Linked DNA regions of Homo sapiens: region 1 is linked to region 2. The links come from fine-mapping of genetic effects on gene expression. A gene starts in region 2. The other region holds a variant in brackets. All regions are shown on one strand. Distances are between the middles of the regions. Region 1 overlaps LOC105375567 (a long non-coding RNA gene). Region 2 holds the start of TMEM176A (transmembrane protein 176A).

The links. PIP is the estimated chance that this variant, and not a neighbour inherited with it, causes the effect.
Region 1: its variant is the best candidate, but not a certain one, in a credible set for the expression of TMEM176A in blood mononuclear cells (TOPMed, PIP 0.80).

Annotation. Positions count from the first base shown.
Region 1 is chr7:150,819,166-150,823,551 of GRCh38, reverse strand. LOC105375567 (a long non-coding RNA gene) reads left to right here. Exons shown (of 5, transcript XR_928171.3): 5 at 1-4,386. Among named protein-coding and RNA genes, the nearest start is that of TMEM176A, 21 kb to the right of the region's middle. The variant A/G (reference allele first, on the strand shown) is at 1,784.
Region 2 is chr7:150,798,175-150,802,560 of GRCh38, reverse strand. TMEM176A (transmembrane protein 176A) reads right to left here and starts at 1,792. Exons shown (of 7, transcript NM_018487.3): 1 at 1,733-1,792; 2 at 837-1,025; 3 at 236-346. The coding sequence starts at 1,010. It overlaps TMEM176B (transmembrane protein 176B), which reads left to right and starts at 2,197. Exons shown (of 7, transcript NM_001101312.2): 1 at 2,197-2,263. RefSeq lists enhancers at 1,101-1,800, 1,801-2,500, 2,501-3,200.

The DNA of each region.
Region 1 (4,386 bases), 21 kb before region 2:
TTTGGTGTACTTTGAATTCTTTTATATATTTTTTCTCTTCTGTGGCCAAGACTGCCTGATGTCTAGCCAGTGTCTGCCTTTTGATGGACAGGTGGGCTGCTTAGTTATTTAATACTATGGCCCGTGTGCGCTTGTGACTTCTTGCGAGTCACCTCCATCCCATAATTTTAAGTACGTGCATAATATGCAGTCCATATGCATGAACCTTAAGTAGCTAATTACCATACGGGAACATTTTAAGGATATGTTTTCTGTCTAACGTGCATGCTCATCTCTGAGGAGCTGCCCCTGACAGGTTTGGTCCAGATCTAGGCGGCCATGTGGGCTCCTTACTCACTTTTTTAAAATCTCACTTTTGTTTTGGCTGCTCAGCCTCTGCTTCATATCTCACTTCTTGCTCACTCGCCCCTTCACCTTGCTTCTGCTCTCATGCTCTCACTCATTCTTCCTGTATCCAGTCTCTGGTTCCCTCTCTACCATCTCCTGCCTCAAAAGTGCTGCTCAGCATATAATTTCTCTTTGTAAGTTGTGGTTCTTGATTTTGGGAAATGAGTTTCCATCTTGCTGAACTTCTTAACTAGAGAATACTGTTGGGATGTGTCTACATCTATGTGACACTACTGGGATCCCTTGAATCCTATTTAGAGTCTAAAAGAGGGACATTGTTACTTAAAGGCGGTGGCCATTTAGCTGTCCCTCTTAGATTTGGTTCATATAATTTCTGATTTTCATGTCAGATTATAATCTGTAAACTCCTACTCAGGTCACTGCACCACTTTGATGGAATTTCCATTCCCTTTGTCCTCAAGATTTGTCTAAAGATATTTGGCTTTGACAGAATTTTGGGTTCTTCAGTTTTCTTTTTAATTATAAAATATACATACAAATGAACATTAAGCATATGTAGTTGTGTGAGTAATTATAAAACAAACTTAATGTATCACCAAATCAAAGAATAGCTCATTGCCCCAGAAGCAACCCCAGTCCCCTAATAACAACCCCTCCCTTTCTCCCTCTCTCCAGAAATGAGCCATATAATACCTCTTGTGCAAATTACTTTTTTGCTTTTCTCTAGATTTTTTTCCTTTTTTGTAGGCATTCCTGAAGGATATAAGTTGGTTTCGTCTGTTTTGAACTTTCTATAAACAGGGTCTTACCAAAGATAATTTTTTTGTCTTATTTATTTTTCTTAATTTTATGTAGTTGTAGGTTGTTCATTAGTGTGTAATTTTCTACTCTAGGAATTTGCAACAATGGGTGTATTCATTCTAATGATGATGGATATTAGTCTTGTTTCTAGTTTGGGGATATTATGAACAATGTATTTATAATCCTTTCTGCACACATGACCTTGGTAATTCGTGTATCTGGGTGTATACCTTGAAATGCAATGGTGGAGTCATAAGTCATATATTTCAACTTTGCTAGTTCATGCCTGTTTTTCAAAGTGGTTGTACCAGTTTACATTTCTGCCAGCAGTGTACAAGAGTTCCCATTGCTCCACATCCTAACCAACACTTGGTATTGCCAGACTTTAATTTTTGTGGAATATTGTGGATTTAGTTCATGTTATCTTATTGAGGTTTTAATTTGACTACCTGGTTTATTGATGAGGTTGAACACATTTCCACTATTTATTGGCCATTTGGGCTTCCTCTTATGTACAGTGTCAGATCTTTGGCAATTTTTTCTGTTGGGTTGTCCGCCTTAATGATTTTTAAGAATTCTTCATGTGAAATTGCTGACACTTGACCATTTTTGACTTACAAAAAATGGCAGTTTC[A/G]TATGATTCAATTTAACACCTTCTGGAATTGGTCCTTTGTTATTTATGTGTTGACTAATATTTTATCAGATTATGTGGCTTATCTTTTCATTTCCTTCCTTCGTTTTTTGAGAATCAGAAAGTTTTAACATTAGTGGATTTGGACTTATCAGTCCTTTTCTTTATGGCTGGTGCTTTTTATGTCTTGTTTGAGAAATCCTTGTCTTTGAGGCTAAAGGTGACCAGATTGTGCTGGGGGACTGGGGCTGCATTCTCAGGGCATTCTACTTTGGGCCCTGGGTCACATTGCCTCTGCTGGGGAGGAGGCAGGTTTCTCTGTGCCCCTAGCCTTGACTGGGTGGGGGAGGGAGGAGAGGCCACTCCTGGGCTCTTTGTAGGGTAGCACTCATGTTTTCAAGAAGATCCTTTCCTGTAGATTGTTTCCACACTGTTCTTTCAAGTGCAGAGGGTCTTCCTAATGAATCGGCAGCCCTGCATCTCACTGGGCCAGGGTTGGGGCAGGAGTAGGCCAGCATCACGGTGGATGTTCAGCTAGGGTGGGCTGTGACGGGGGTTGGCTCCAGCTCAGAACTGGAAATCCTGTTTGCTGAATTGTGTGTCCTAGCCGATGAGGTGGGACAAGGAGAAACTGGCTGAAGACAGTGAAACAGTAGGAAAAACCCTGCCTGCCCTGTAACTCTGGGGCCTGGGGGATGTAATGGTGTGATTCTGACTAGTTGGCTGGAGCAGAGCAGGTAGCCTGGGGCGCGCCAGACGAAGACTGGAAAATGTCATGGCTTTTTGGCCCTCACTCCTCAACGTCACTGTGGGTTGGGGGAGGCAGGGGACTGTCCAACCTGTTCACAGTTCCCTTTCCAGTGCTGACAGTGCCTGCCACATGAGAGATATTAATACACATTTGTTCAATTAATGAATTAATATTTTTCACATAATTTCATGAAAGAGTTAATGTTTTCTTTTCTATTTCTTTCCCTGGGGAAAACTTTTTGTAGCCCCTAGGCGGCAGAATTAATCACATCTAGCTGGCTTGTGATACGGAACCAGGCTTTTGAATTTAAAATTAATCTTGTTCTAATTCTGTTTTTGAACTTGTTAATCATTAAGGTCCTAAGAAACATTGGCAGAGTAAAACTGAAATAAAGACCTGGTAAATTACTTTCTCAGGCTAAAGAAGGTATGAATTTTTCTTCTAAGTGCTTCTAAATCAGTCCTTTAATGGTTAGGTTGGATGTAAATTCTTACCATTCTTCAGTCAGATAAATGAATGTCAACCCAGTTTTTCCTTCTGCTGGAAAATGGTCTTTTACTCTCAGAATCTGGCAACCTCCTTTGTGTCTCGTGTCTGGAGGGTCAGAGTCTGGGAAAGCAGCTCCCCTCCACCCCACTTCTCAGGCCTTCTCCCAGCTTCCCAGCTTCTCTCCCTGCAGCCACCCTGCCCCCTCCCAAACTGCCTCGGAAAGTCCCATGTCTCGGGTTTTCTCTTCTGTAGGAAATCAGATGTCGTGCCACCGCAACCTTTCATTCAAAATAAAAATTCAAAAGCAATTTGTGTATTTGAAAACACATCTAAACCACAGGCTTGAAGTTCCTGTTTTGATGGGGAAAATGAATATTCCCATCTGGAGATAACTTTGGGACGTTGAGATAGAGACAGGCAAATTCATCTCAAACTCATTATTATTTTAGATTCTTATCATTATCAATTATTATTATAGCAAAACTCATCATTTTTTCTGTGTACAATTTGTGAATTTTAACATATGTACAGATTCATGTAACCAACACCATGATCAGGATAAAGAACAGTATTGTCACCCCACAAATCTTCCTTGGGGGGTCCCTTTTTCAGTCACATGCTCTTCCCAGCCCTAACCACAGGGAACCATTGAGTTGTTTTCCATCACTATAATTTTTCCATTTTGAGAGTATCATATCAGTGGAATCATGCAGTACGTAACCTTTGGGGACTGGCCTCTTTACCTCAGCATAATGATGTTAAGATTATAATCTGTAAACTCCTACTCAGGTCATTGCACCACTTTGATGGAATTTCCATTCCCTTTGTCCTCAAGATTTGTCTAAAGATATTTGACTTTGACAGAATTTTGGGTTCTTCAGTTTTCTTTTTAATTATAAAATATACATACAAATGAACATTAAGCATATATAGTTGTGTGAATAATTATAAAACAAACTTAATGTATCACCAAATCAAGGAATAGCTCATTGCCCCAGAAACACCCCCAACCCCCACATCATTCATGTGATTGTGTGTATCAATAGTTTATTCCTTTTATTGCTAGTAGTATTCCAGTGTATGGATGTTCCTACAGTTTATCCATTCACCCATGCAAGGACATTTGTGTTGCTTCCAGTTTTTTGGTAATTATAAATGGAGCTGCTATAAACATTCACATACAGATTTTTGTGTAAACATGAGCTTTAATTTTTTAGGGTAAATATCATGGAGTGTGATCACTGAGTCATAAGATGTAGGGTTAAATTTGGAAGAAGCTGCCAAAGCATTTTCTAGAGTGACTGTACCATTTTGCATTCTGGCCAACATCTGGTATTGTCTGTGTTTTCTATTTGACCTGCTCTAA
Region 2 (4,386 bases):
GCAGCCAGCCTGGTGGGAACAGCACTGGGAAGGGTATGGGAGAGCAGACAGTGTGAATAGGACATGCCACCACCGCCCTCAGCTGTTTGCTCATCTGAACAGGCAGGGAATGGTCCTAGATAATCAGATCTCTCCGACTGCCAGCATTCTGTGGCGCCATGTTGGAGGAAGGCAATCAGGAGAGCAATGCCCCACCCCTCTCACAGGCAGTCAAGCACTGTCCTGCTCTACTCACCACAGCCCCTGTCCAGATGGCAGCTCCCGAGGTGACGAGGAGGGTGTAGTCGCGGATGTAGAAAAATCCTCCTAGGACTGCACTCAAGATCCCCAGCACGATCTGCATCACCTGAAAGACAAAGGACCCAAGATCCCGGCTCCTAGGTGGACCTGCCACTGCAGGGATTAACCGCTAAAACCCCAAAAAGAGAGGGAGAGGTAGAGAGAGAGAGAAAGAAAGAAGAGAAGAGAAGAGAAGAGAAGAGAAAAGGAGAAGAAAGAGGAGGAGAAGGAGAAAGAAGAAGAGGCAGGAGGAGGAGAAAAGAGAAGGGAAAGGAAGGAGAGGAGAGCCGGCCCATCCTGAGTTTGGCCCAGAGGAAAGGATGGACTCAGGGCTCCACTGATTGGGACTCTGCATGGTCAGTGGCTCCTCCACACCCCTTCAGCCCAGAGCCTCCCCTCCCCAGGCTCTTACTGAGAAGGCCAGAGAATCACATCGCTAAGTAAGAAGACATAACTGGCTCGGTGTCCTGTTCAGAGGGAGGCTGGCAGAGAGTGCTGCTGCGGCTGGAGGTGGGGAGTTCCTCCCGCCGCCCGACGAGGCAGGCCGTCACACTCACCCACGAGGCCACCAGCAGCCGGCTGCTGCCCCTGGCCTGGGTGGCCCGGGGCCGCAGCGCAGAGCAGCAGGTGAGCAGGAGCTTGGCCAGGGCAGACTCCTGGTGGATGTGCACATCGATGTGGGTGTGCTGTGGGGCCTCCGGGGCCATCTCATCACTGTCGGCTGTTCCCATTGTCAGGGACACAGTCTATGAGGAAGGGAGCACCAGAGAGGAACGGCTGTCAGAAGATTTTCGCAGATTTCATTGGAGTTGGGGAGGTCAGGGGCCAGTGGTGGCTCAAAGTCACCCAATGAATGGCTGTCCTGGTCACAGGGCCGCACCCCTGGCCCCTCACGAGGGGAATGTGTGTAGCAGAGGGGGTGCTGACCATGCTGGAACTGCGGCGACTACAGAGCCTGCGGGAACCTCCCCTTTCGCCCAAGATCTGCTCTGTCCCCCTCATCCTCCTCCCAGGGCCCTGGCGTCTGGGTCAAGCAGCGCCCCACACCTCGACCCCTCACCCCCTCCTCCCGGGCTCTTCCTGCGGCCTCCCCTCCACAGTCCGCAGGCTCTGGGACAGGACCGAGTCCTTGGCTGCCTGTGGAGCTCCTGTGCCAGCAGCTGCGCCCCGGCTGCGCTCCGGATACCCCCATCCCCGCCACCGCCGACCTCCCGCTCCACCGACTGCTGCTCACGCCCGACGGGTTCACGCCGCCCCTGCCCCGTGAAGGACCGCGCTGCGGTGCGGAGGTAGGTCAAAAGCCGGGGCCGCACCTGGCTTCCTCTGCAGTCCCCTTCCTGGAGTGTCATCCCTGGGTGGGGGTCCCTCCTACGCTCCTCCAACTGTGCGGAGGCAGCTCGGGGTGCGTGCGGAAGGAGGCCCGGGGGCCGCCGGGAGTGGGGTGCCGCCTCACCTGCGCTCCTCGGGACCTGCGAGCGGGCGGCGGGAGGGCTGGGGCGCTGGCTGGAGAAGTGGGTTGAGAGTTGGAGGGGGAGGCGGGGAGGGGAGGCGGGGGTGGGGCTGAACTTCAGCCCCTCGGGTTCATGACAGGCTGCAGGGCCTGGGGTCCGTCTGGGGTTCTCCTGCTGCGCGAGGGTCACTGGGCTCTGGGGAGCTGGGAGGGTCCGCGGGCGGACGGCCCTGGGAAAGCCCGTGGGGTCGTTCTCGCCTCCAGCCCCGCCCGGCCAGGGCCGGCGTGCAAGTGTGCGCGAGTGGGAGCGCAGGGGGCGCGCGGGGGCTCGGTCTTCTCCCGCCCGGTCCGCTCCTCCGGGCGGAACCCCCTTTGCCGGGCCCCCGGGCCGCAGCTGGTTTCGGGAAACCGCGCAGCCTGGGCGGGGCCGCAGCCCCCACCCGTGCATCTGCCGTCTCCGCCCTCCCGTCGCTCCCCTGCTCGGGGTCAGCTAGTGTCCGCTCTGCTCGGCCGCGGGCTCCCGGAGGACTGCAGGTGAGGCAGGGCCTCCGCGGCCCGGGAGACCCTCTTGCCGCAGGACCCTCTGTCACGAGGAGTCCCCAGGGCCATGCCCCCACCCCGTCCTGTCCACAGGACGTCTTTCTTCCTCCAACCTGGTTTCCAGGAGGACTCACGTAGGAGGGAGGGACAGCTGGGTGCAGGTGTTTCTCCCCAGAAAAACGGCTGGAGAGCGGGAGGAGAGGCCTGGGGCTGGCGCGTCCCGTCCACCTTCTGCCGCCTGCACGCCTGGACCCTGGCTGGAGCCCTACGGTGGGGTGGCTCCTGGGACGGGGCCAGGGAGCGGCGGGGCTGCCGGACGCTTTCCCCAGCCCCGGGGCACGGGAAGAGCTGGACAGAGGAAAGTGTTCGGGGCAGCCGGGAAGAGCCCACCACCTACCAGGCGTCGGGCGGCCCGCAGGGGAATCTCCGTGGTGCCGGCCTGGTTCAGATCCGACTCTTCAGGCGGGGGCGAGGCAGATCTAGGGGTTGGCGTGGGGCGGGGGAAGCGGTGGTCCTGGGGGCCCGGAGGTAGCTGGAACCCGAGGTGCCCTCAGGGCGAGGCCTGGGCCGTCAAGGGAAGGTCTGGCTGGAATCTGGGGCTGGGCTGGAAGCAGTCTGAAGCTCCTTTGTACGTGTGCGGAATTGTCTAACTCCTGTCCTTTCTAACCCCAAGGAGGCCAGGTGGGTGAAAGAGTGAAACTGCTTTGAAAAGTAGGTAGAGTACGAATGGGAGGTGTTATTAGAATTGTTAATAATATTTGATTTAAACTGTGATACTTAGCCAGGATGTCCATTAGAATTGCCTATGCAGGATTTATTTTAGAGCCAGGCAAGCTGATTCTAAAGTGCATGTGAAGAAGTAGTCTAGCAAAAATGGCCATGACAATTCTGAAAGAAAAACCACACGAGGGGATCATGAAACAGCCCAATTAGCATTAAGCTCCATGTTAAAATTGTGGTAATGATGCCTAGCCCATGAGACATGCCAATGGGCAGAATATAAGGACTAGAATAGGCCTACATTCCTAGGGGAACTTCATTTCTGCTCAGGAGAGAATTTTAAATCACTGAGAAAAAGAGGATGTATTTTCCGCAAATGGAACGTATCTTTCAGAAGTTAAACATCTGAATGACAGCAACAGAACTTGGATCCGTGTCTCCCAACGGCGAAGGTTGGTCACCCAGCTCCCAAATTCCAGATGGTCGGCATTTAAAAGTGAAAACTGAAAGCATAAAGGCACTTAGAAGAAAATGTGGAAGATTATTTTATAATCTCGAAACGGGGAAGTCCTTTAAAAGTGTAAGAGCTAGACACCATAAATAGAATGAAATAGAACATGGATTGTATGAATATACAAGCAAGGTCAAAAAATAAACTTCAAATTGTAAAGAAACATTTGAAACTCATATCACAAACGGTAATTTTGTGAATAGATAAAGAACTTCCATAGAAAAAAGCAAAACAAAACAAAACGAAACAAGGACATAGGATGTGAACGGAGAGCTCACAAAAGAAGAAATAAAAATGGCCCTGAACATATGAAAAGACAACCAACCTCACTCATAATAAGAGAACTATGGGCCAGGCGTGGTGGCTCACACCTGTAATTGCAGCACTTTGGGAGGCTGAGGTGGGAGGATTGCTTGAGTCCAGGAGTTTGAGACCACCCTGGGCAACAAAGCAACACCCCATCTCTCTCTCTAAAAAAAGAGAACTGGCCGGGCGCGGTGGCTCACGCCTGTAATCTCAGCACTTTGGGAGGCCGAGGCGGGCGGATCATGAGGTCAGGAGATCGAGACCATCCTGGCTAACACGGTGAAACCCCGTCTCTACTAAAAATACAAAAAATTAGCTGGGCTTGATGGCGGGCGCCTGTAGTTACTCGGGAGGCTGAGGCAGGAGAATGGCGTGAACCCGGGAGGTGGAGCTGGCAGTGAGCCGAGATCGCGCCACCCTAGCCTGGGCGACAGAGCGAGACTCCATCTCAAAAAATGAATAAATAAATAAATACATAATAAAAAAATGAAATAAAAGAAAACCATGGATTAAAAATATATGGAAATCATTACAGAAAGCAGGTCAGTGGTTGCTCATGGCCAGTGGTTGGGGGTATTTT